4 separate regions of the Homo sapiens genome follow, and all the other regions are linked to region 2. Evidence: fine-mapped expression QTL. A gene starts in region 2. Each other region holds a variant in brackets. All regions are shown on one strand. Distances are from middle to middle.

Evidence for each region. PIP is the estimated chance that this variant, and not a neighbour inherited with it, causes the effect. A credible set is the group of variants that fine-mapping cannot tell apart.
Region 1: its variant is the best candidate, but not a certain one, in a credible set for the expression of TIPRL in rectum (CEDAR, PIP 0.52).
Region 3: its variant is the best candidate, but not a certain one, in a credible set for the expression of TIPRL in prefrontal cortex (ROSMAP, PIP 0.55).
Region 4: its variant is the best candidate, but not a certain one, in a credible set for the expression of TIPRL in whole blood (INTERVAL, PIP 0.59).

What each region holds. Positions count from the first base shown.
Region 1 is chr1:167,377,191-167,383,089 of GRCh38, reverse strand. All of the region lies in intron 7 of POU2F1 (POU class 2 homeobox 1), which reads right to left. Among named protein-coding and RNA genes, the nearest start is that of CD247, 140 kb to the left of the region's middle. The variant C/T (reference allele first, on the strand shown) is at 3,464.
Region 2 is chr1:168,175,801-168,181,699 of GRCh38, reverse strand. TIPRL (TOR signaling pathway regulator) reads right to left here and starts at 2,738. Exons shown (of 7, transcript NM_152902.5): 1 at 2,519-2,738. The coding sequence starts at 2,622. RefSeq lists enhancers at 2,507-2,626, 2,614-3,115.
Region 3 is chr1:168,866,200-168,872,098 of GRCh38, reverse strand. LOC105371606 (a long non-coding RNA gene) reads right to left here. Exons shown (of 2, transcript XR_922261.3): 2 at 1,900-3,122. Among named protein-coding and RNA genes, the nearest start is that of LINC00626, 82 kb to the right of the region's middle. The variant T/A (reference allele first, on the strand shown) is at 3,380.
Region 4 is chr1:168,205,569-168,211,467 of GRCh38, reverse strand. It overlaps the pseudogene RPL34P1. Among named protein-coding and RNA genes, the nearest start is that of SFT2D2, 17 kb to the left of the region's middle. RefSeq lists an enhancer at 2,701-3,293. The variant G/A (reference allele first, on the strand shown) is at 2,912.

The DNA.
Region 1 (5,899 bases), 800 kb after region 2:
ATGGTAGAAAGTATTCGACAAAGCACACCAAACAAAAGGGATTTTACCATTTTCTTTTGAATATGTGATAAGATTATCTGAGGCAATAGCTTCCTAATTATGATTTCATTAGGTTACTAAATTTGGATATATTAAATGTTGTAATATGTAGGACAACAGCCAGAACACTTAAGCCTGCCAGAGATTAGCCATAGAATTTATCACTTATTTATAAGTAACTAAGCACTGCCTAAATTTAAGCTATCAAAAGATACTAATATTTATTTCATAATGTAGGTCACAAATAAGATAAATATATTAAATAGATTTGAATTTTTCTAAAGAACCCTGACTTTTGCTGATCTGGGACAAGTGAAATATATATTGAAGCAAATATGATTAAATAAAATTCAGCATATATTACTACAAACATTTCTTAAAAGGCAGGTTTATGGAAGTTTAAATGACCATCCTCCTTCCCCAAGTGTCTCCCTATAGTTCAATCTCCATATAATAGTTAGGGTGATCTTTATAATCTTATTATTTCCCAATTAAAATGCTGTCATGGCCTTATATTAGAATTAGAACAAAATCTATGCAGCCCTAGGTATCTGGCCCTGTCTAGCTATCGTATCTCAACTTCTACCACTTCCTTTGACTCACTGAACTCCAGCTACTTTGGCTTTTCTTTTCCTGGATCAGGTCAAGCTGTTCCCATCTCAGGTGTTTCACATTCCTTTGCCTACAAGACTCTTGTCTTCAGATTCTAGGTGTGGTAACCTCTCCCTCATCCTTCCTCACCAGTTCCCAATTCAAATATTGCTTCTCCAGAGAGACTTTTCCAGACCATGGGCCCATTCTTCTTTAGGTTAACCATTACCAGATTACTATGATCCGCTACCTGACTAGTACTTATTGGTATCTAAACCATTTGTTTACATGTTTACTATTTGACGTCTCTTAATGAGGGCAGGGCCTGCATCTTGTTCAAAATACATCCCTAACTATCAGAGCACTATATGACACAGCAGGCACTCAACTAATTTTTGAGTGAATTAATTAAAATATCAAACTTTACTGGTTTGAAAAATACTGAAGGGTAGTCTAGAGGAACAAAACTATGTTAACTATTAAAACTAATTAAATAAAATTGTTTTGAAAAGACTAAAGAATATTCAAAAACAATAATAAAAAAAGAGAGGGCCAGGCGCGGTGGCTCATGTGTGTAATCCCAGCACTTTGGGAGGCCGAGGCAGGCAGATCACTTGAGGTCAGGAGTTCAAGACCAGCCTGGCCAACATGGTGAAACCCCATCTCTACTAAAAATACAAAAATTAACCGGGTGTGGTGGCACACACCTATAATCCCAGCTACTCGGGAGGCGAGGCAAGAGAATTGCTTGAACCCAGGAGGCAGAGGTTGTGTTAAGACAAGACTGCGCCACTGTACTCCAGCCTGGGTGAAAAAACAAGACTCTGTCTCAAAAAAAAAAAAAAAAAAAAAAAAAGAGAAGAGAGCACAAAGGTCAGAAATGAAGTTCCATTAAACATAGGCTATTTCAACATAGGAGTTTCTTTAAAGTTTAACAATGAAAGTTAGTTTAATCTGTAAGAGACAAAAGCAGATAAGTAAACAAATTCAAACCTTAGGTTTTACCCCCAAACAAGGTCAGCTGAAAAGGCTGAAAGGGCCCATAGAGGTTTAGAACTTTTTAAAAAACCAATGCTTGGCCAGGCGCCATGGCTCACGCCTGTAATCCCAGCACTTTGGGAGGCCGAGGCATGTGGATCATGAGGTCAGGAAATCGAGACCATCCTGGCTAACACGGTGAAACCCAGTCTCTACTAAAAATACAAAAAAATTAGCCAGGCGTGGTGGCATGCGCCTGTAGTCCCAGCTACTCAGGAGGCTGAGGCAGAAGAATCCTTCTAACCTGGGAGACGGAGGTTGCAGTGAGCCAAGATCACACCACTGCACTCCAGCCTGGGCGACAGAGCAAGACTCCATCTCAAAAACAACAACAAAAAAAAAACGCTTGCCACTTTCCCTTACCTAAACAATGAAAACCCAAACAAAACTCAAATGAACAACAGTTTTCTAACCAAAAACATTTCTTTGATTATTTTTATAATTAGTGCTGAGAGTAGATAGGGCAGAATAAGATAACCAATAAATTATGACTCAAGTCCAGTAATCTATCAGTAAGAATTTTCCCATGAAAAATAATTCTGAGGAAAAGGCTTAAATTTCCCTTGCTAGAAATTAAATTCTAGACAGTTACAGTTATATAATCATAGCAATATTACCAAAAATATGAACTACATCTCAAAAGTTTTAGGTTAATCAATGAAAAACAAGGGAAAACAGAATTCCAGAAATCAATATTGAAGGCTAATCTCATGCTGGAAACATTATTAAAATTCCAAAAGATAAAATCTTTGTCCTCCATCATGAAGTTAAGAGATTAGCTCTTTGGATTTTCAGCTTCTCTGATGCTATTAATTACAATGAATTCAATTCTTAGAAATGTTTATAGACGTATTTCCACTACGCTGATCCTCTACATTGTTGAATAATCTTAGAAAATGGAATCTAGGTCACATACGACTAACGAATGATTGCAACTCAGCAGCAGTGGTACAAGGTGATTCTAGGGAAACTATATAAAGGAACAACCTTTTCATTCTCTGAGTTATCTATCGTTTGTTGACTGAGGATGATACTGGTATCATGATAATGTCATAATGGTAACAGCAGCAAAGATTTAGAAAGGTTACTATGTAGGAGGCAGCTTTCTAAAAGGTGCCTTACATGTGTTTACTCGTTGACTCCCTACAACTCTTAGAGGTGAACACTGAAAGTATCCTAATATCACAGTTGAGGAAACAGGGGCCCATAAAGTTAACTTTCCCCAGGACACACAGGTAAGTGGCAGAGCCAAGATTCACAAAGAGACAGTTTGGCTTTAGAGTCTATGCTCTTTGCTACTACATTATAATGACCTTCCTGATGTTAGGGTAGTAAAACTTTTTTTGTAATTCACCCATGTAAGTGAAGGGGAAGATAAAAAGGGAAATATGGGAAACTCAGAAAGGTTAGGTGAGTTGTCCAGGGTCACTGGCTCTAAGGCCAATCAGTATTACATTATCTGTGCTATTTTCCCAATCTTATAAAAGTCTGGAAGTTGGGGGAGTGTTTAAAAACATACACATACTTTTGCAAGTACCAAAAAATCAGAATGAACAGTAATTCATTATTCCTACTATCTTGATTTGAGACAAATAAAATTGAAATAAAATGAGGTCCCAGATATGAAAAGGGAAAGACAACGCCCTTGGCTTTGCTGAAAGTGAATGAAGGCAATCTCATTCTATCTTAAGGCTTTGGCAATTAACAAATCTAATAAACACACTTTGCATTGACCTTCCTAAGTCTTTCTGATCTAGGTCACTTTCTCCTTCCCTCTTGGCATTTTCTTCCATTG[C/T]GATTACCACTCTCCACTAGTTTTTGACTTCTGAAAATGCAGTATCTTTTGAATCTACTTAATCCTTTACACCTAAAAGGTTGGTTTCACCAAGGTTCTTCTAACACTACATATATATTTTCTCTGACCCTATCAACCCTCGTAGTTTCCTAAAAACCCAGGCATTATACCTAGATACTTCTTTCCTATCATTAATCAAATATAACTGGCCACCAGGTCCTGTCCATCTACCTACTTATTTACCAATTTTCCCTACCCAAGTTTCAACATGAACTTTATTAAATAAAAACTTGGAAATGCCACTTTTCTGATTAAATCTGTGGTTTAGTAGAGTTGACAGAAGACTTTCTTATTGGAAGATATTGGGCCATTCACATTAGACTCCTCTAAGTGAGTCCAGATACAGTGGCTCATGCCTATAATCCCAGCACTTTGGGAGGCTGATGCAAGAGGATCGCTTGAACCCAGGAGTTCAAGACCAGCCTGCGCAACCACAGCAAGACATGTCTCTATAAAAAACTTTTTTTTTTTTCTCAATTAGCCAGGTGAGGTAGTACACACTGTACTCCCAGCTGCTTTGAAGGCTAAGGTGGGAGGACTGCTTGATCCCAAGAGGCTGGGACTGCAGTGAGCCATGATTGTGCCACTGCACTCCAGCCTGGGTGACAGAGCAAGACTCTGTCTCAAAAAAAAAAAAAAAGTCAAAATTAGCTGGGTGTGGTGGCGCATGCCTGTAATCCCAGCTCCTTGGGAGGCTGAGTCAGGATAATCGCTTGAACTCGCGAGGCAGAGGTTGCAGTGAGCCAAGATCATGCCATTTAACTCCATCTCAAAAACAAACAAACAAATAGAGCAAGAACGAGGAGCCTGTGAATCCATTTCCTATTTATTCCATCTCAAAAAAACACAAAAAAACAAAAAGGCCTGATGCAGTGGCTAACGCCTGTAATCCCAGCACTCTGGGAGGCCGAGGTGGGCGGATCACCCGAGATCAGGAGTTTGAGACCAGCCTGGCCAACATAGTGAAACCTCATCTCTACTAAAAACCAAAAATTAGCCCAGCATAGTGGCGGGCGCCTATAATCCCAGCTACTCAGGAGGCTGAGACAGGAGAATCGCTTGAACACAGGAGGTAGAGGTTGCAGTGAGCTGAAATTGTGCTGCTGCACTCCAGCCTGGGCAACAAGAGTGAAACTATGTCTCAAAAAAAAAAAAAAAAAAAAATTAGCTGGGCATGGTGGCGCATGCCTGTAATCCCAGCTACTTGGGAGGCCGAGGCAGGAGAATTGCTTGAACCTGGGAGGCGGAGGTTGCGGTGGGCCGAGATCGTGCCATTGCACTCCAGCCTGGGCAACAAGAGTGAAACTCCATCTCTTAAAATCCCAAAAAACAAAGAACAAAAAAACTCAAAAAATAACAGATGCTGGCGAGGTTGTGGAGAAAAGGGAACACTTATACACTGCTGGTGGGAATGTAAATTAGTTAAGCCATTGCGGAAAGCAGTTTGGCGATTTCTCAAAGAACTTAGAATTGCCATTTGATACAGCAATCCCATTATTGGGTATATACCCAAAAGAATATAAATTTTTCTGCCATAAAGACACATACCCATGCGTATGTTAATTGCAGCACTATTCACAATAGCAAAGACATGGAATCAACCTAAATATCCATCAACACTAGACTGGATTAAAAAAAATGTGGTGCATATACACAACGGAATACTATACAGCCATAAAACTTTCAGTACATATGTACACAAAGAAGGGAACAACAGCCACCAGGGCCTACTTGAGGGTAGAGGGTGGGAGGAGGATGAGAATCGAAAAAACTACCTATCAGGTATTATGCCTATTACCTGGGTGATGAAATTATCTGTACATCAAATCCCTATGACATGTAGTTTATCTACATAACAAACCTGAGTGTAACCCTGAACCTAATAGTTTAAAAATAAGAAAAAAAGTAATTGGGAGGTTGGGGTTAGGGCTCAGGAAACTTTTCTAATTCCTCAAGTGATTTTTTAATTTTTTTATTTTTTAGACGGAGTCTCACTCTGTCACCCAGGCTGGAGTGCAGTGGTTCAATCTTGGCTCACTGCAAGCTCTGCCTTCCCAGTTCACACCATTCTCCTGCCTCAGCCTCCTGAGTAGCTGGGACTACAGGCGCCTGCCACCACGCCTGGCTATTTTTTTTGTATTTTTAGTAGAGATGGGGTTTCACTGTGTTAGCTAGGATGGTCTCGATCTCCTGACCTCGTGATCTGCCTGCCTCGGCCTCACAAAGTGCTGGGATTACAGGCGTCAGCCACCACGCCTGGCCATTAATGACTCTTAAATAAATCAAATCTTAGGAAGCACTAAGCTATAGGATTTAAGGTCAAACTCCTGGAAACTTAATCTAAGGTTCTTTAATGATCTGGTCTCTGCTAATCTT
Region 2 (5,899 bases):
ACAGCCATCGCTTAGAGAATCTGTAAGTAAATTACATGGGGGCCCCAGTTTGAAGCTGACTGCTTTATATATAATATAATTATATATTGTATTATGTTGGTGCAAAAGTAATTGCGGTTTTGCAATTAAAAACCGCAATTACTTTTGCACCAATCGGCAATTTGTCACAGAAAGTTATATGGAGAGGAGGCCGGGTGCGGTGGCTTATGCCTGTAATCCCAGCACTTTGGGAGGCCGAGGGCAGGTGGATCATCTGAGGTCAGGAGCTCAAGACCAGCCTGACCAACATGGTGAAACCCCATCTCTACTAAAAATACAAAATTAGCTGGGCGTGGTGATGCATGCCTGTAATCCCAGCTACTTGGGAGGCTGGGCAGGAGAATCGCTTGAACCCAGGAGGTGGAGGTTACAGTGAGCCGAGATGGCGCCATTGCACTCCAGCCTGGGCAACAAGTGAAACTCCATCTCAAAATAAAAATAGAAAGAAAGAATAAGAAAAAAAGAAAAGAAAAGAAAATTAAAAATAAATAAATAAATAAAAATACAAAAATTAGCCAGGCGTGGTGGCACGCGCCTGTAGTCTCAGCTACCAGGGAGTCTAAGGCAGGAGAATCACTTGAACCTGGAAGGCGGAGGCTGCAGTGAGCTGAGACTGTGCCACTGCACTCCAGCCTGGGCGACAGAGTGAGTCTCTGTCTCAAAAAAACAAAATAAAAAATAAATAAAAGTTATACAAGGCTGGGCGCAGTGGCTCATGCCTGTAATCCCGGCACTTTGGGGGGCCAAGGCGGACAGATCACCTGAGGTCAGGAGTTCGAGACCAGCCTGAGCAAAATGCAGAAACTCCGTCTCTACTAAAAATACAAAAAAAAAAAAAAAGTTATAAAAAAAAAAGAAAAGAAAGATATAGAGAGGAAAAACTCAAAAAAGTAATTCAATTTCTGGTGGGATGAAGGGAAATTTTTTTCCTTTCTTTTCTGTATTTTCCTAATTTTTTTCAGTGAGTCTACTAGAATATTACCACTTATTTTCTTGAATTAGGAAGCAAACATCGTTTCATTACTTTCCTCTCTTCCCTGGTCACTCCCTCTGCTCAAATCTTAAAATGCAAGTACTCACTTAGGGTTCTATTTTATGACCTTTTCCTCTGGATGACTTCTAGATACCTTAATTCATTCCCAAAGCTCCAGGTACCAAATATAAGCAGATAATTCCCAAACTTAAACCCACAGACGTTATCTTTTTTGAGCTCCAAGATAAATATATCTAAATGCCTACTACACATCTTCACTTTATGACCTATACCCACCTCACATTTCAATAAACTAAACTCATCCTCTAACCAACACCCTGCCCCCATCTGCTTCTCCTCCTCCTGTGCTTCTCATCTTGTTCAAAGGCATACGATACATGCAAAAATCCAAGCCAGAGATCTTGTCATCAGCATAGACTCTTCCTTTTTTATTTCTCCTCCCATCAGCTGGCCATCCCAGGGACTTAATCTTCTAAAACCTATCTTTTCTCTTACTAACTGGTCTCCTTCCCATCCCTGCGGACCTGCAATCCAGCCTCAACATGGCCTCCAGAGAAATCTTTCAGAGCGTACATCTGATAATGCAGCTCCTTTGGATAAAATTACACCCAGTGGTTGTCAGATAAAATTGAAAACTCCTTAGCCAGGCATAAAAATTCCCTCAGTATCTTGATTCCCCTGGGGCCTACCTCTCATCTCTCACAACACCCCCTATGGTACCTCACGCTCCAATCACACGGACACAGCTCTTTAAACACATCACAGCTTTCACTCTCCCTGAGCCCCCAGCTTTACATGCGTCCCCTGATTCCCCTAAATTTTGTCAAGATTCAGCCCAGGCATCAAAAACGCATCACAACTCACTCTGCCTGACCTGATGGCATGTACCTATCCACCGCCCCCCGCAACGGTTTTATAAAGATTCAGTTCAGGCATCCCAATTTCCCAGATGGTTCGAGCCCCTAAAAGACCTCACATCACTCCGTGTATACATCTTCATTACATTTATTCACGCTGTAATATAATTGTCTGTCTCTCTCACGAGACTGTGAATTGAGGCGCACGTTGTCTTTTACATTTCCTATCTCAAGCGCCGGGCACAGCACCTGACGTGACAGAAACCAAACTTATAAATCATCCCCGTCATTAACCCCTAAGAAAACAGGCAACAGCCACCCAGAAAGAAAGGTGGTGCAGGCTGAGGCAGGAGGAGACGTTTGGTGAGGGGAAAGTCCACCAGAACAGTCACACTCTACTCAAACCCAGGCGGATTGACAGTTGACGAAAGCAGCGCCTGGCGATCCCCAACCAAAGGGCCCGGAAGTGTGACTGGATTATTTATCGAAGTTGTCAATCAAAGGTCCGGTCCGGAGGGACCGAACCTCCGCCTCAGGGAAAAGGGGAGGGGCTGCACAGAGTTCGCCCTGCCTCCCGCCCTGGGCCAGCAACCGGCCAGCGCCCAGACCCCGTGCCCCGAAGCCTCACTTCTCCACATCCGCCGACTTCATGATGTGGGTCTTGGACGCCGTCAGCTTCCAGGGCCCGAAGCAGAAATCCCGGTGGCTGCTCTGGAAGCCGTGGATCATCATGGCTGAGGCAGGACCCGCAGAGGCCACAAGGAATAAGCTGAAGCAGCGGCGGCGGCGAACACCGGTTCCTCCGCCTCCCTCCGGCCCAGCCTCCTAGGCTTCCGAGCCGTTACCATGCCCGGCCCCGCCCCCTGCCGGCCGACCCGGACGCGGGCTCTGCTTCCCGTCTTCTTCTCCGCCTCTTTGCTTTTTGCTTCCGGGACTAGTTGCTCTTGTTGCGTGACCCACGTCTTACGTTCCGGCGTTCCGGAAAAAAGGAAAAAGGAGAAAGTCAGAGGGGCGGCACTTGGGTTGCAGAAGGTGTGGTTAGGAACGCACCGCCCTCTTGAACTCGTTGGGTGACGTCATCTCGAAGGATTTTAGGGACTGCCAGGGAAGGGGATGACGGTTCCAACTTGATCCTTACAGACCTCAAAGCAGTGTGATTACCTCATGTGTTAGTGAATCGTGTTACAGAGGAAATTTTTCTGTTTTGAGGTCAAAAAAAGAAGTAATCCCACAGAGTTTAGGAAATCCAGCACCAACAAGATTTAGAAGTGGCCATCTAGCCACTCTTGACTATGACCAACTCCTATCAAAAATTGCATCCTCGTAGATATGCGAAGACTTTCCATGGTCTAGTTGCTATGTAGGCACCCAGTATAGTGAAAACAACACAGCTGACTTAGTGCTAAATCTCCATTTGCAACACTATTGTGTGAATCCTTGGGCAAAGCGCTTCTCTAACGATTTTAGGCTTCAGTTGCCTCAAAATGAGATGATTTTGTTAATGGAAAAAAAACAAATTCTGTAAAAGGTTTTAAAGAGATTTATTCTGAACCAATATGAGTGACCATGGCCCAGGGAATAGTCCCAAGAGGTCCTAACAAAGAGCATCTGAAGCGGTGGCATTACTCTTTGTTTTATACATTTTAGGGAGTTGGGAATTGCAGGTAAAATAAGTCAATATATGGAAGATATACATTGGTTCAGGCTAAGGAAGTGGGATGTCTTGAAGGAGAGGCTTACAGATCATAGGTGGATTCAAAGATTTTCTGATCGGCAATCTGTTGAAAGATTTAAGCTTTAGTCAGGCGAGGTGGCTCCTGCCTATAATCCCAGCATCTTGGGAGGCCTAGGTGAGAGGATTGCTTGAGTCCAGGAATTTGAGACCAGCGTGGGCACCAGAGTAAGCCCTCATCTCTACAAACCGTGTTAATTAGCTGTGTATGATGGTATCTGCCTGTAGTCCCAGGCCACTTGAGAGGCTGTGGTGGGAGGATCTCTTGAGCCTCAGAGGCTGCATTGAGCCATGATCATGCCACAGCACTCATGCCTGGGTGAGCGAGACCCTGTCTCAAAAACAAATAAAAACACAGGCCAGGTGCAGTGGCTCAAGACTGTAATCCCAGCACTTTGGGAGGCCAAGGTGGGTGGACCACCTGAGGTCGGGAGTTCAAGACCAGCCTGGCCAATATTGTGAAAACCTGTGTCTACTAAAAATACAAAACTTAGCCAAGCACGGTGGTGGATGCCTGTAACCCCAGCTACTAGGGAGGCTGAGGTGGGAGAATCACTTGAACCTGAGAGGCAGAGGTTGCAGTGAGCCGAGATCGTGCCACTGCACTCCAGCCTGGGTGACAGAGTAAGACCTTGTCTCAAAAACAAACAAACAAACAAACAAAAAACAGTGTTAAGCTTTGTCTAAAGACTTGAAGTCAGTAGAAAGGAATGCTTAAGAAAAGGGAGTCTGCTATCTGTCATGTGATTCTACACCAGTCAGGTTGGAAAGTAAGGCACATTATACCATTGCACATAAAAAACCATTTAACGACATTTTATGGTTTGTAGGGCATGACTTAATCCTTGCCTTGCATGGCCATAGTTTTTTTGTTTTGTTTTGTTTTGTTTTGTTTTGAGACAGAGTCTTGCTCTGTCGCCCAGGCTGGAGTGCAGAGGCCCCATCTCGGTTCACTGCAACTTCCACCTCCTAGGTTCAAGCGATTCTCCTGCCTCAGCCTCCCAAGTAGCTGGGATTTCAGGCATGCAACACCATGCCCGGCTAATGTTTGTATTTTTAGTAGAGACGGGGTTTCATCATGTTGGTCAGGCTGGTCTTGAACTCCTGACCTCATGATCCACCTGCCTCGGCCTCCCAAAGTGCTGGGATTACAGGCGTGAGCCACCGCGCCTGGCTCGCAGGTCTTGTTTATTTGTATTTATTTTTTTTTTTGAGACGGAGTCTCGCTCTGTCACCCAGGCTGGAGTGTAGTGACGTGATCTCAGCTCACTGCAACCTCCACCTCCCCAGTTCAAGCGATTCTTCTGCCTCAGCCTCCCAAGTAGCTGGGACTACAGGCACGCGCCATCTCGGCCAGCTAATTTTTGTATTTTTAGTAGAGATGGGGTTTCACCATATTGGCCAAGCTGGTCTCGAGCTCCTGACCTCGTGATCCGCCTGCCTCAGCCTCCCAAAGTGCTGGGATTACAGGCGTGAGCCACTGCGCCCAGCCTAGGTCTTGTTTATAATATGGTATCTTATTGCCACAGAGTGTTTTGTCAGTCTTATGATCTCTAGTTTAACCTTAATGTTGGTCAGTTGTGCCTAAACTTTAAAAGGGAGAAGGTATAGAGGTGTGTCTAACCTCTCTTCCCATCTTGGCCTGGAATTCAGTTTTTAAGGTTTTTCTGAGGTTCCTTTGGCCAAGATTAGGTTTTGTTTTCTATCTAAAATTTCTTTTTATTTAAAAATTTTTTTATTTTTAATTTTTATGGTACATAATAGACATATTTATGGGGTATATGAGATATTTTGATAGAGGCATGCAATGTGTAACAATCACATCAGGGCAAATGGGATATCCATCACCTTAGACATTTATTATATTTTTGTGTTGCAAACATTCCAGTTATAATCTTTTAGTAATTTTTTTTTTTTGAGATGGAGTCTCGCTCTGTTACCCAGGCTGGAGTGCAATGGTGCGATCTCAGCTCACTGCAACCTCTGCCTCCTGGGTTCAAGCGATTCTCCTGCCTCAGCCTCCTGAGTAGCTGGGATTACAGGCACGCACCACCATGGCCGGCTAACTTTTGTATTTTTAGTAGAGACAGGGTTTCACCATGTTGGTCAGGCTGGTATCGAACTCCTGACCTTGTGATCCACCCGCCTCGGCCTCCCAGAGTGCTGGGATTACATGTGTACAATAAGTTATTGTTGCCTGTAGTCACCCTATTGTGCTATCAAATACTAGATTTTATTCATTCTGTCTAACTATATTTTTGTACCCATTAACCATTT
Region 3 (5,899 bases), 690 kb before region 2:
CTCCCAAAGTGTGGGATTACAGTCATGAGCCACTACAACAGGACTGATTTGCATTTCTTTAGTGACCAATGTTTAACCTCTTTTTATGTGCTTGTTGGCTTTTTTTGCATACTTTCTTTGGGAAAATTCCTATTCAAATACTTTGTCTATACTGTGTTTCACTAGACAGCTTTATTGAGGCAAAATTCACATGCTATACCACTCATCCATTTAAAGTATATAATAATTCAATGATATTAATATATTGACAGGATTGTGTGACAACCCCCAGAATCTAATTAATTTTAGAATATCTTCATCACTTCAAAAAGCAATGAACTATCCACCAGCAGTCACTCCTAATCCCTCCCCATCCCTCAAGCCCTTGGCAACCACTAATCCACTTTCCATCTCTATAGCTTTGCCTATTCTCAATGTCTTATATAAATGGAATAATCTAATATGTGGTCTTTTGTGACTTGTTTCTTTCACTTAGTATAATGTTTTCAAGGTTCATTCATGTTGTACTATGATCAATTCTTCATTCCTTTTTATTGTCAAACAACAGGCCGTTGGAGGGATATACTACATTTTGTTTATCAGGTCATCAATGGATTGAAATGTGGGTTATTTATACCTTTTGGATATTGTGAATAGTGCTGCTATGACTATGATTGCATATGTATTTGTTTGAGTACCTGTTTTCAATTCTTTTGAGTATGTACCTAGGAGTGGGATTGCCAGGTCATAAGGTAACTCCATGTTCAACTTTTGAGGAACCACCAATCTGTCTTCCAAAGTGGCTCCAACATTTTACATTCCCAGTGGCAATGCATGAGAGTTTCAATTTCTCCACATCCTCTACGATTCTTGTTATTAGCCACTCTATAGTGGCTTTGTGAAGTGGTATCTTGTGGTTTTAGTTAGCATTTCCTTAATGAATGATCATTGTAAGCATCTTCTCTTGAGCTTATTGGTTATTCATATGCCTTCCTTAGAGAAATGTCTACTCTGATTCTTTGCCCATTTAAATATTGGATTAATTATCCTTTATTATTCAATTGTAGGAGTTCTCTATATATTCTGGATACATGTCTCTTGTCACATGTGTTATATGATTTCCAAATATTTTCTCCTATTCTCTGTGCGATCATTTGTCTTAATAGTATTACTTGTATTATAAAACTTTTAAACTTTGATGAAGTCAAATTTATCTATTTTCTTTTGTTGCTTACGCTTTTAGTGTCATTTCTAAGAAGGCTTTGCCTAACTCAAGGGCACAAAGATTTACCCCTATGTTTCCTTGTAAGAGTTTTATAGTTTTGACTCTCACATTTAGGTATATAATCCATTTTGAGTTAATTTTTTGTGTGTGTAATGTAAGGAAGGGAACTGGCATCATTATTTTGCATGAGTTTGATGTGTTTGGATTCTCTAATTTAAGGAAAAACTAATGATAACTTTAGTACAGGTTAGACGGAGGTGCAGAGAAGAGAAGAAAATCTCTTCTCTGAAGAGGACAGTCAAGATGATAGGATTGAGCTTTGTACTACCAGGGCCTTAGTTCAGGAATGTGATGTGACTGAAGCCAGCTCAATGAGATGCAATCTCAAGACTTGCTGGAACTATTAGAATAAAACTCTTTTTTTTTTTTGTAGGATTATTATCTGTTCTGATTACTTAAGTCTCAAGCTACCAGTCTCTTTAAGTAGACAGCTTACTGGAAAATGGGTCAATAAAACGAAAAGCAAAGCCAATAGGTGGGGTGAGACACTGAGTTTGTTAATATTGTTTGAACTTTTGAAACAATACTTGAAAATCTACTCTTAAATTTTCAGTTTTAGATTTTTTTCACTTAATTACCAAGTAAGTGCAGAATGGCACACACCTGTGTCTTGCTCCAAATACTCATCAACAATATGCACTAGAGAAAGAATACATTTATTATAGTTTCCTGATCATTCTTTGAAGTTTGACATGGTTGTTTCTTCCACTAGGAATGTCTTTTCTCTAATTTACTTGATTAACACGATCTTTCCTTCAAAAAGCGTGAAAAGGCCTCAACTCCTCTCCTAGAAGCCTTTGCTAATATAGCAAGGCAGGGTTGAAGGCCCTCCCCTCAACCCAGCCTGAGCCCCAGTAGTGTCTGTCTCATTTCATTTTAGTTTTCTGGCCCCTCAACTTTTGAGAAAGTAATGGACAGTGAACATATTTATTCATCTGTGTATTCCATGTGCCTAGACCAGGGCCTAGTACATAATGGGCAATCAGTAACTTTTGTTGAATGAATGGTAAATGCAATAGAGCCCCCATACGGTTAAATTTTATTAAGATCTCACAGTCCTCTAAATATATAACTATTTTCTCTGTGTCTAGCTTGTTCCCTCTCCCCTCGTGTTGAATTTTAAAACAGTCCTACGAGAAGACACCTAAGACTAAGAGAAGCACAACCTGATATAATAGTTTTGGTCAGTGTGGAATGCAGCTGCCTTCTTGCTTTCTGAACAAAGTGATGCCAACCAAGTATAACAGCCCTATATTCTTTCTGCTTATCAGTAGGTTTTGAGATATATATATATATGTTGGCTTTTTTGAGTCAGAAGGCCAATGACAAATAATCCCCTTTGCCTTCAGACACATTTAGCATTCTTGAGCTTACCTTGCCACTCAACAACACCCCCCATGTTTCTGGAGTTGCTGTATGGTTTAAGTCAGAGCAGTGAGCAGCTGGTGTTACTTTAATTCCTTGTGAAAACTTCTTCTCTGTTCCAACCAATATCCACGCAACCTCTGTTCTTTTAATATTTCCAATGTTAATTCAGTTTGCTTATTCTACACATGATAGATGGCTGACCTGTAAAGATTTTGAGGCAAAGGAAAGAGCACTGGAGCCAGGCAAGTAGCCTCAGTTCCTCCATTAGCTTATTATATTTGATGTCTTCGGTCCTCAATTTCTTCTCCTGAATCATGATAAGCCTGGATGGAAGAGCCCCTAGGGCCCATTGCAGTTCTCAGATTCACAGGACACTCGATGTTCCTATGGTTCTCATTGAAGTTATTTGTGATGCTGGATAGAGGCTGAGGGAATTTGGCCTTCTAACTTTTGGTAACATGTTCCCAGGAGGTATGCACTGTTAATTGTGCTGTTAATTGAAGAGAAAACATTGGCATTAAAAAGAGAGTTCCTTTTTACTTAGGAAAATCTGTCTTTACTTTCCCCCTTTTTGTTTTTATCTCTTTAAATCCCATGTTGTGACCATTTTATGGAACCGCCCAAATAATCAAAGTGGGCCCTGTAAACTGCCTCATTTCTTAAAAGAAGGCAATACACTGCCTAGTCTCTAAGACTTTACATAGCTGGGTTGTACAGTCAGAATAGGCCAAATACTATACTAAATAA[T/A]CTTCAAATTTCAGTGTTTTAACACAATGAAGATGCATTCTCACTGATATCATAATCCAGTGAGAGGTGGCAGGGGCGAAGTGTGGGGATGGATGGGGACGTGAAGGTGTCAGAGAAGCTGTTTCCACCATGTTCCAGGACTTCAAAGTCTTTCACTGGGTCTTTTGGTTCCACCAGCAGATGCAGGAAGACAGGAGAAGGGTGAATGGTTTTGTGGCCACACGAGGGAAGTTTAACTGTACACCGAAGACAAAGAGGAAATGAGTTTAGTAATCTCTGCTGGGTCACCTAGGTATGGCAGAAACATGCACAGGGAGATGTTTATACAATAAGGTAATGATACAGAGAGACATTATTATACACATAGACTGAAAAGACTCATGAGACTGGAGGGCCACAAAGAAGGGCCAGGTGGTGATTCTGAGTTCAGAGAGGGGACTTAATGCAACCCCTCTTGTTTTATAGCCAAGGAAATTATACCCAGGTAAGGAAATTATGACCCAGGTAAGTAAAGTGGCTGCTCAAGGTCACCACAAATTAACTGCTTATCTGAAATGAGAACTCGTTGGTCAGCATACTTCCTGGCATTCATGTAGTAGAATCACAGGTGCCAGCATTCTTTGGAGAAAAGCCTACTTGGCTCTGGTTTAAGACCAAAGTGAAATATCAACCTTAATTTTTTTTTTTAAATGGAACTGGTCTAAAAACCATGGAAGATTTTAAAATTCTGAATAACTGTTGAAAGTCACCAAATGTGTAAGAGCACAGGGTAGGCATTTAATTAGAGAGAAGAGACAGAGACACACATAGAGAGAGAGAGCCACTAAGAAAGAGTCAAAGATCTGTTAAAGAAATATCCTTTTGATAGTAAACCTGACCTATTGGTTTTGCTGGCTCTAGGGGTCTATAAATTTTACTTCCTGTTTTTTTAGTTCTAAGGAGAAGAAGTCCCTACACAAATATTGAGAAAGATAAAGGCTGTCTTTGGGCCCTTTGCCCCTGTGATGGTATTCCTCTTCTAACATTCAAGTTGTACCAATGTCTCCCATCCCTCTCACCAGATAGCAATGCCTTCATTCCATTCCCTTGTCAATCTGATCACTCCATTTTCCATCCCCAAAGAGACTATTATAGTTATGTGTAAAGTGCTGATTACATACATTCATTGTCTCCTTTAGAACTCACATAAACTTCAGGAGCGAAGTTTTAGTATACCAATTTTATAGATGAGAAAAAGACCAATAGATAGAGCTACCAATTACTGAATACCTGCTATGTTCCAGATGCTTTATATACTCTATCACAATTTATACGGCAATCTTGCAAAATATTATTATATCACTTCCCTTTAAAATATGAGGAATCAATATCAGAAGGGTTAAATAATTTTGCCGAGATCACCAAGCTGGCAAGATAGAGACAGATTTTAAACTTGGGTTTATTTGATTTTAAAACCTATGTTTTCCATGATGCCAAATAATAACAATGATGATTTTATTATTATTTGTAATCATTTTTACTGTTATTAAGTTTTTATTTTATAGTCTTTCCAGAGAAAATTCACATTCTCTGATGGGATTCTTAGAGGTGCAATGCTTTAAACATTATGAATAAATGTGGTAGTTCAATTTATCAGTTAGGGTACTTTTAGCTGGAAGTTAAAAACAAACAAACAAAGATAAATGGTATAAAAAACAAGTAAACAAGGCTATTTATTTGTCCCTTAAGGAGAAATGCAGAGCTAGAGGAATTCTAAAGCTGGGTAATTCAGTGTCTCAGTGATGCTACCAAGAACCCAGTATCCATCCTTTCTGTTCTGTCATCTACAGTAATTTGCTTTATCCTCTTAGGCTGGTTCCCATGATGGTACCAGATGGCTCTCTCATTGCAGGTATCTTAAGCAGGTGACAACATCCAGAAACAGAAAATAAAACTGCTAGACTTGTGTTCATTTTTAGGAGTGAGAAAACCTTCCTAGAGCCTCACCGACAGACTTTCCTTGACATCACTTCAGCCAAAATTAGATCACATGCCCATGCCTAAACAAATCACTTTCCAAGGGGAATGGAGTTGCCATGTTTGACTAAACCACTTAAGGATTTAATGTCCTTTGAAATAATTGACTTCTCAATATTTTAGCAAGCTTCAGTTTCTGTTAGGAAGAAGGTTCAAGGCAAATTCTTGTGGGTAAGAAGCAATAGTGATGATCACATTCAGGCACCAAGACTCGGTGGGATAAGGATGGAGGTAGAAACTTTCAGGTTCACACAGAGGTCTTGCCTTCTCATGAGCCCAGACCCATTATGAGTCATGTTATAGAAGTAAATACTGTAAGTGTTTGGGGAAGAATTTTCACATCGTCCCAAAGTGTTATTTTGAAATTACAAAGATTCTCAGTTGACTGACTAGAAAAAATATGAAAAAAAAAGCCAACTTCTGACTCAATAAGGGCCACTTATGTTACTATGCTGTGAACTAATTGGTCTCAAATAACTTTAGAGCCATTTAGTTCAATTCCCA
Region 4 (5,899 bases), 30 kb before region 2:
TTCTGTTTTGCCTTTTAGTCTGCCTTGTAGTTTTTTTTCTTGATACCTGAACGTGATGTACGTAAAAGGGGCTATAGTAAAAAGGCCTTTAGTAATGTGTGGGAAGATGTGTGGGAAGGAAAGGTATTTTATAGTCCTATGATTAGGTCTCAGTCTTTTTTTAAAGTCTTTTCATTTTTATTGCTCAAAAAAGTTTCTTTCTTTCCTTTTTTTTTTTGAGAAGGAGTCTCGCTCTGTCGTCCAGGCTGGAATGCAGGGCTCATTGCAACCTCTACCTCCCGTGTTCAAGCGATTCTCCTGCCTCAGCCTCCCAAGTAGCGGAGATTACAGGTGCATGCCACCATGCCCAGCTAATTTTTGTATTTTTAGTAGAGACAGGGTTTCACCATGTTGGTCAGGCTGGTCTCGAACTCCTGACCTCATGATCTGCCCGCCTCGGCCTCCCAAAGTGCTGGGATTACAGGTGTGAGCCACCACTCCCAGCAACAGTTTCATTTTTTATTTAGCTTTTTGACTCTGTGCTTGTGCCTTCAACACTTTCACAACAATTTTCTGCTCCTCGATAAGGAAAGCATGCTTGATCCTGTCATGAACACATTTAGCACAAATGGAACCACCATATTCCCTGCTGACATGTTTTTTTGTTTTGGACAATTTCATAAGAACTTTAGGTCTCACAGCACGAACCCCTCAAAGTCTGCCTGGGCACATGCCACATGCAGATTTTGGTGCTTTCCCAACCTTCTTGGTATAAAAGTAAACAATTCTATTACCTGGGGTTTGGGACAGCCTAGTTTTGTTAGAGGCTATATTGTAGGAAAGCCTACGATGGTATATCAAATGCTGGACCATTCTGAGTGCCTGTAAACAACATCAGCAAAAGAGGAAGAAGAAAGTCTTTGTGAGTTCAAAGGTCGAATAGGATTCAGTCTCAGTCTTTTAATGAGCCTGTGCCTCTGGACTGTGAACTTCACAAGTGCTTCTCCGTACCTCCCTCCCCACCATTGGGTGGAACAGGATAGCTAGAGCTGACTGGAGTTGGATATTTCTCTTCCCCCAATCAGTAAGACTCTGAAAAAACTTTACTAGATTAGGCTCTAGTAAAACAGTTTCTCTCAAGGGCAGGCCTTGTTAACAAGAGAAAGCTCTGGCATATTTGAAAATGGTTATTTGTCCCCTTCCCCTGATGAAATCCCAAAGGGATTTTTGGCCAGTCTTTACTGTGAGAACCTGATTGAGTGCCTGGAGGTAAAACTCAGAGAAGTGTGGCGGTTGCCCTATGACTGGGTCCCCCTGGAGTTTTTATTTATTTGTTTTATTTTATTTTTTGAGATGGAGTCTCACTCTGTTGCCCAGGCTGGAGTGCAATGGTGTGACCTTGGCTCACTGCAACCTCTGCCTCCTGGGTTCAAGTGATTCTCATGCCTTAGTCTCCCAAGTAGCTGAAATTACAGGCGCATGCTACCACACCTGGCTAATTTTTGTATTTTTAGTAAAGATGGGGTTTTGCCATGTTGGCCAGGCTGGTTTCGAACTCCTGAATTCAGGTGATCTGCCTGTCTTGGGCTCCAAAGTGCTGGGATTACAGACATGAGCCACCACATCTGGCCCCCTTGGAGTTTTTAATCTCAAACTTGTCCACACTGAGCCTCCAGCTATTTGTCAAGCACAATTTAGATTTTCCTACCCTGGCACTAGTGCCCACGGAGGTTTTTGCTTCTGAGTTCCTGCTCCATTAAGTTGTAATTCTCTGTATTTGCCTGTCTCTTCAATTTTGGGAGTAGCATTTTGCCCTGTAACGTCACTTTTCTGAGGGATCCAAGAAGAGTTGTGTCTTCACTTTGTCCAGCATTTTCCTTATTGTCAAGATGGAATGATGACTTCCAAGCTCCTTACATGGACCTTCGCTTCATTATTTTCTTGCTCATTTACTCCCTGACCAGAAGTTGGCTATAATTCTTATGTGTTTCTTTCTCTGTATATAATGTTTCTTTTTCCTCCAACTGTCTTTGAGAGATTAACTCTTATCTTTGGTTTCAGCAGTTTGACTTACAATGTGGAATTTCTGGAATTCTGGGACCTGTGAGTTACTGTTCTTCATTAACTTTGGAAAATTCTTGGCCATTATCTCTACTGATACATTTTTTTCTTTCTTTTTATTTTATTATTATTATTTTTTTTTGAGATGGAGTCTCACTCTATTGGCAGGCTGGAGTGCAGTGGTGCAATCTCGGCTCACTGCAACCTCTGCCTCCCGGATTCAAGCAATTCTCCTGCCTCAGGCTCCCGAGTAGCTGGGACTACAGGTGCGTGCCACCACGCCTGGCTAATTTTTGTATTTTTAGTAGAGACGGGGTTTCACCATGTTGGCCAGGATGGTCTTGATCTCTTGACCTCGTGATCCGCCCGCCTCGGCCTCCCAAAGTGCTGGGATTACAGGCGTGAGCCACCGCGCCCGGCCTCTACTGATATTTCTTATCCCGCAGTCCATTTCTGTTTTCTCTTGGACTTTAATTACATATGGGTGTATGTCTTTTTTTGTACTTTGGTTTATTGTGCTTCACAGATATTGCATTGATTATATCTGTATGGTGATCTGTGATGAGTGATCCTTGATGTTACTATTGTTAACTGTTGGGGGATATCAACAATTCTGCCTATATAAGACAATGAGCTTAATCGATAAATGTAGTGTGTGCTGTGACTGGTCCATTGACCTTCCATTGTCCCATCTCTCTCCCTCTCCTCAGGCCTTTCTGTTCCCTGAGACACAACAATATTGAAATTAGGCCAGTTAATAACCTACAATGGCTCTCCCTCTCCCTCTCCCTCTCCCTCTCCCCACGGTCTCCCTCTCCCTCTCTTTCCACGGTCTCCCTCTGATGCCGAGCCGAAGCTGGACTGTACTGCC[G/A]CCATCTCCGCTCACTGCAACCTCCCTGCCTGATTCTCCTGCCTCAGCCTGCCGAGTGCCTGCGATTGCAGGCGCGCGCCGCCACGCCTGACTGGTTTTCGTATTTTTTTGGTGGAGACGGGGTTTCGCTGTGTTGGCCGGGCTGGTCTCCAGCTCCTAACCACGAGTGATCTGCCAGCCTCGGCCTCCCGAGGTGCCGGGATTGCAGACGGAGTCTCGTTCACTCAGTGCTCAATGTTGCCCAGGCTGGAGTGCAGTGGCGTGATCTCGGCTCGCTACAACCTCCACCTCTCAGCCGCCTGCCTTGGCCTCCCAAAGTGCCGAGATTGCAGCCTCTGCCTGGCCGCCACCCCATCTGGGAAGTGAAGAGCATCTCTGCCTGGCCACCCATCGTCTGGGGTGTGAGGAGCCCCTCTGCCCGGCTGCCCAGTCTGGGAAGTGAGGAGCGCCTCTTCCTGGCCGCCATCTCGTCTAGGAAGTGAGGAGCGTCTCTGCCCAGCCGCCCATCGTCTGAGATGTGGGGAGCGCCTCTGCCCCGCCGCCCCGTCTGGGATGTGAGGAGCACCTCTGCCCGGCGACGACCCTGTCTGGGATGTGAGGAGCCCCTCCGCCGGGCAGCCGCCCCGTCTGAGAAGTGAGGAGCCCCTCCGCCCGGCAGCCGCCCCGTCTGAGAAGTGAGGAGCCCCTCCGCCCGGCAGCCGCCCCATCTGAGAAGTGAGGAGCCCCTCCGCCCGGCAGCCGCCCGTCTGGGAAGTGAGGAGCGTCCCCACCCAGCCAGCCGCCCCGTCCGGGAGGTGGGGGGCGCCTCTGCCCGGCTGCCCCTTCTGGGAAGTGAGGAGCCCCTCTGCCCGGCCGCCACCCCGTCTGGGAGGTGTACCCAACAGCTCATTGAGAACGGGCCATGATGACGATGGCAGTTTTGTCGAATAGAAAAGGGGGAAATGCGGGGAAAAGATAGAGAAATCAGATTGTTGCTGTGGCTGTGTAGAAAGAAGTAGACATAGGAGACTCCATTTTGTTCTGTACTAAGAAAAAATCTTCTGCCTTGGGATGCTGTTGATCTATGACCTTACCCCCAACCCAGTGCTCTCTGAAACATGTGCTGTGTCCACTCAGGGTTAAATGGATTAAGGGCGGTGCAAGATGTGCTTTGTTAAACAGATGCTTGAAGGCAGCATGCTCATTAAGAGTCATCACCACTCCCTAATCTCAACTACCCGGGGACACAAACACTGCGGAAGGCCGCAGGGTCCTCTGCCTAGGAAAACCAGAGACCTTTGTTCACTTGTTTATCTGCTGACCTTCCCTCCACTATTGTCCTATGACCCTGCCAAATCCCTCTCTGCGAGAAACACCCAAGAATGATCAATAAAAAAATAAATAAAATAAAATAAAATAAAATAAAATAATAAAAAAGAAAATATGGTGTCCTGAAAATGCTATGTGTATGAGTGAGAATTGAGTTATTTTGAAGTGGTTTTTGAGTATTTCCTTATGAAAGTCAAATAAGGGAAATAATTCAGTAATAAAAAAATTTATTTCCATGCTTAAAAAAAAAAATAACCTACAATGACCTCTAAGTGTTCAAGTGAAAGGAAGAGTCCCATGTCTTTCACTTTAAATCAAAGGCTAGAAATGATTAAGCTTAGTAAGGAAGGCATGATAGGATGAAAGCCAGACATCTTGTACGAGTTAGCCAGGTTGTGAATGCAAAGGAAAAGCTCTTGAAGGAAATGAAAAGTGCTACTCCAGTGAATACATAAATGATAATAAAGCAAAACAGCCTTACTGCTGATACTGAGAAAGTTTCATTTACCATTCTCAAAATCCTAGAGCTGAGAATTATGATCAGTTGCTACCACCTGTGCTCTACAACAAAGCCTGGATAACAGCACATCTCTTTACAGCCTCGCTCACTAAATATTTTAAGCCCAGTATTGAGACCTACTGTTCAGAAAAAAAGATTCTTTTCAAAATATCACTGCTCATTGACAATGTAGCTGGTCAACCAAGAGCTGTGATAGAGATGTACAAGGAGATGAATGCTGTGTTTTCATGCCTGCTGACACAATATACAATCTGCAGCCCATGGATCAAAGAGTCATTTCAACTTTCAAGTCTTATTTCTTAAGAAATACATTTCATAAGGCTATAGCTGCCATAGATAGTGATTCCTCTCATGGAACCAGGCAAAGTCAATTGAAAACTTTCTGGAAAGGATTAACCATTCCAGATGCCAATTTGTGATTCATGGAAGGAGGTCAAAATGTCAACATTTTAACAGGAGTTTGGAAGAAGTTGATTCCAACCCTTGTGGATGACTTTGAGAGGTTCAGGACTTCAGTGGAGGAAGTCACTGCAGATGGGGTGGAAATAGCAAGAGAACTAGAATTAGAAGCAGAGCCTAAAGGTGTGACAGAATTATTGCAAATTCATGACAAAACTTTAACAGGATGAGGAGTTGCTTCTTATGGATGAACAAAGAAAGTGGTTTCTTGAGATGGAATCTACTGTTGAAGATACCGTAAGCATTGTTGAAATGGCAACAAAGGATTAGAATATTACATATACTTAGTTACTTAGCTGATAAAGTAGTGGCAGGATCTAAGAGGGTTGAATGTCTTTTTTTTTTTTTTTTTTGAGACGGAGTTTCACTCCTGTTGCCCAGACTGGAGTGCAATGGTGTGATCTCTGCTCACCGCAACCTCCGCCTCCCAGGTTCACATGATTCTCCTGCCTCAGTCTCCCGAGTAGCGGGGATTACAGGCATGTGCCACCATACCCAGCTAATTTTGTATTTTTAGTAGAGACAGGGTTTCTCCATGTTGGTCAGGCTGGTCTTGAACTCCCAACCTCAGGTGATCCGCCCACCTCGGCCTCCCAAAATGCTGGGATTGCAGGTGTGAGCCACCACACCTGGCCGTTGATGTCTTATTTTAAGAAATTGCCACAGCCATCATCAGTCAGCAGCCATCAACTCAAAGCAAG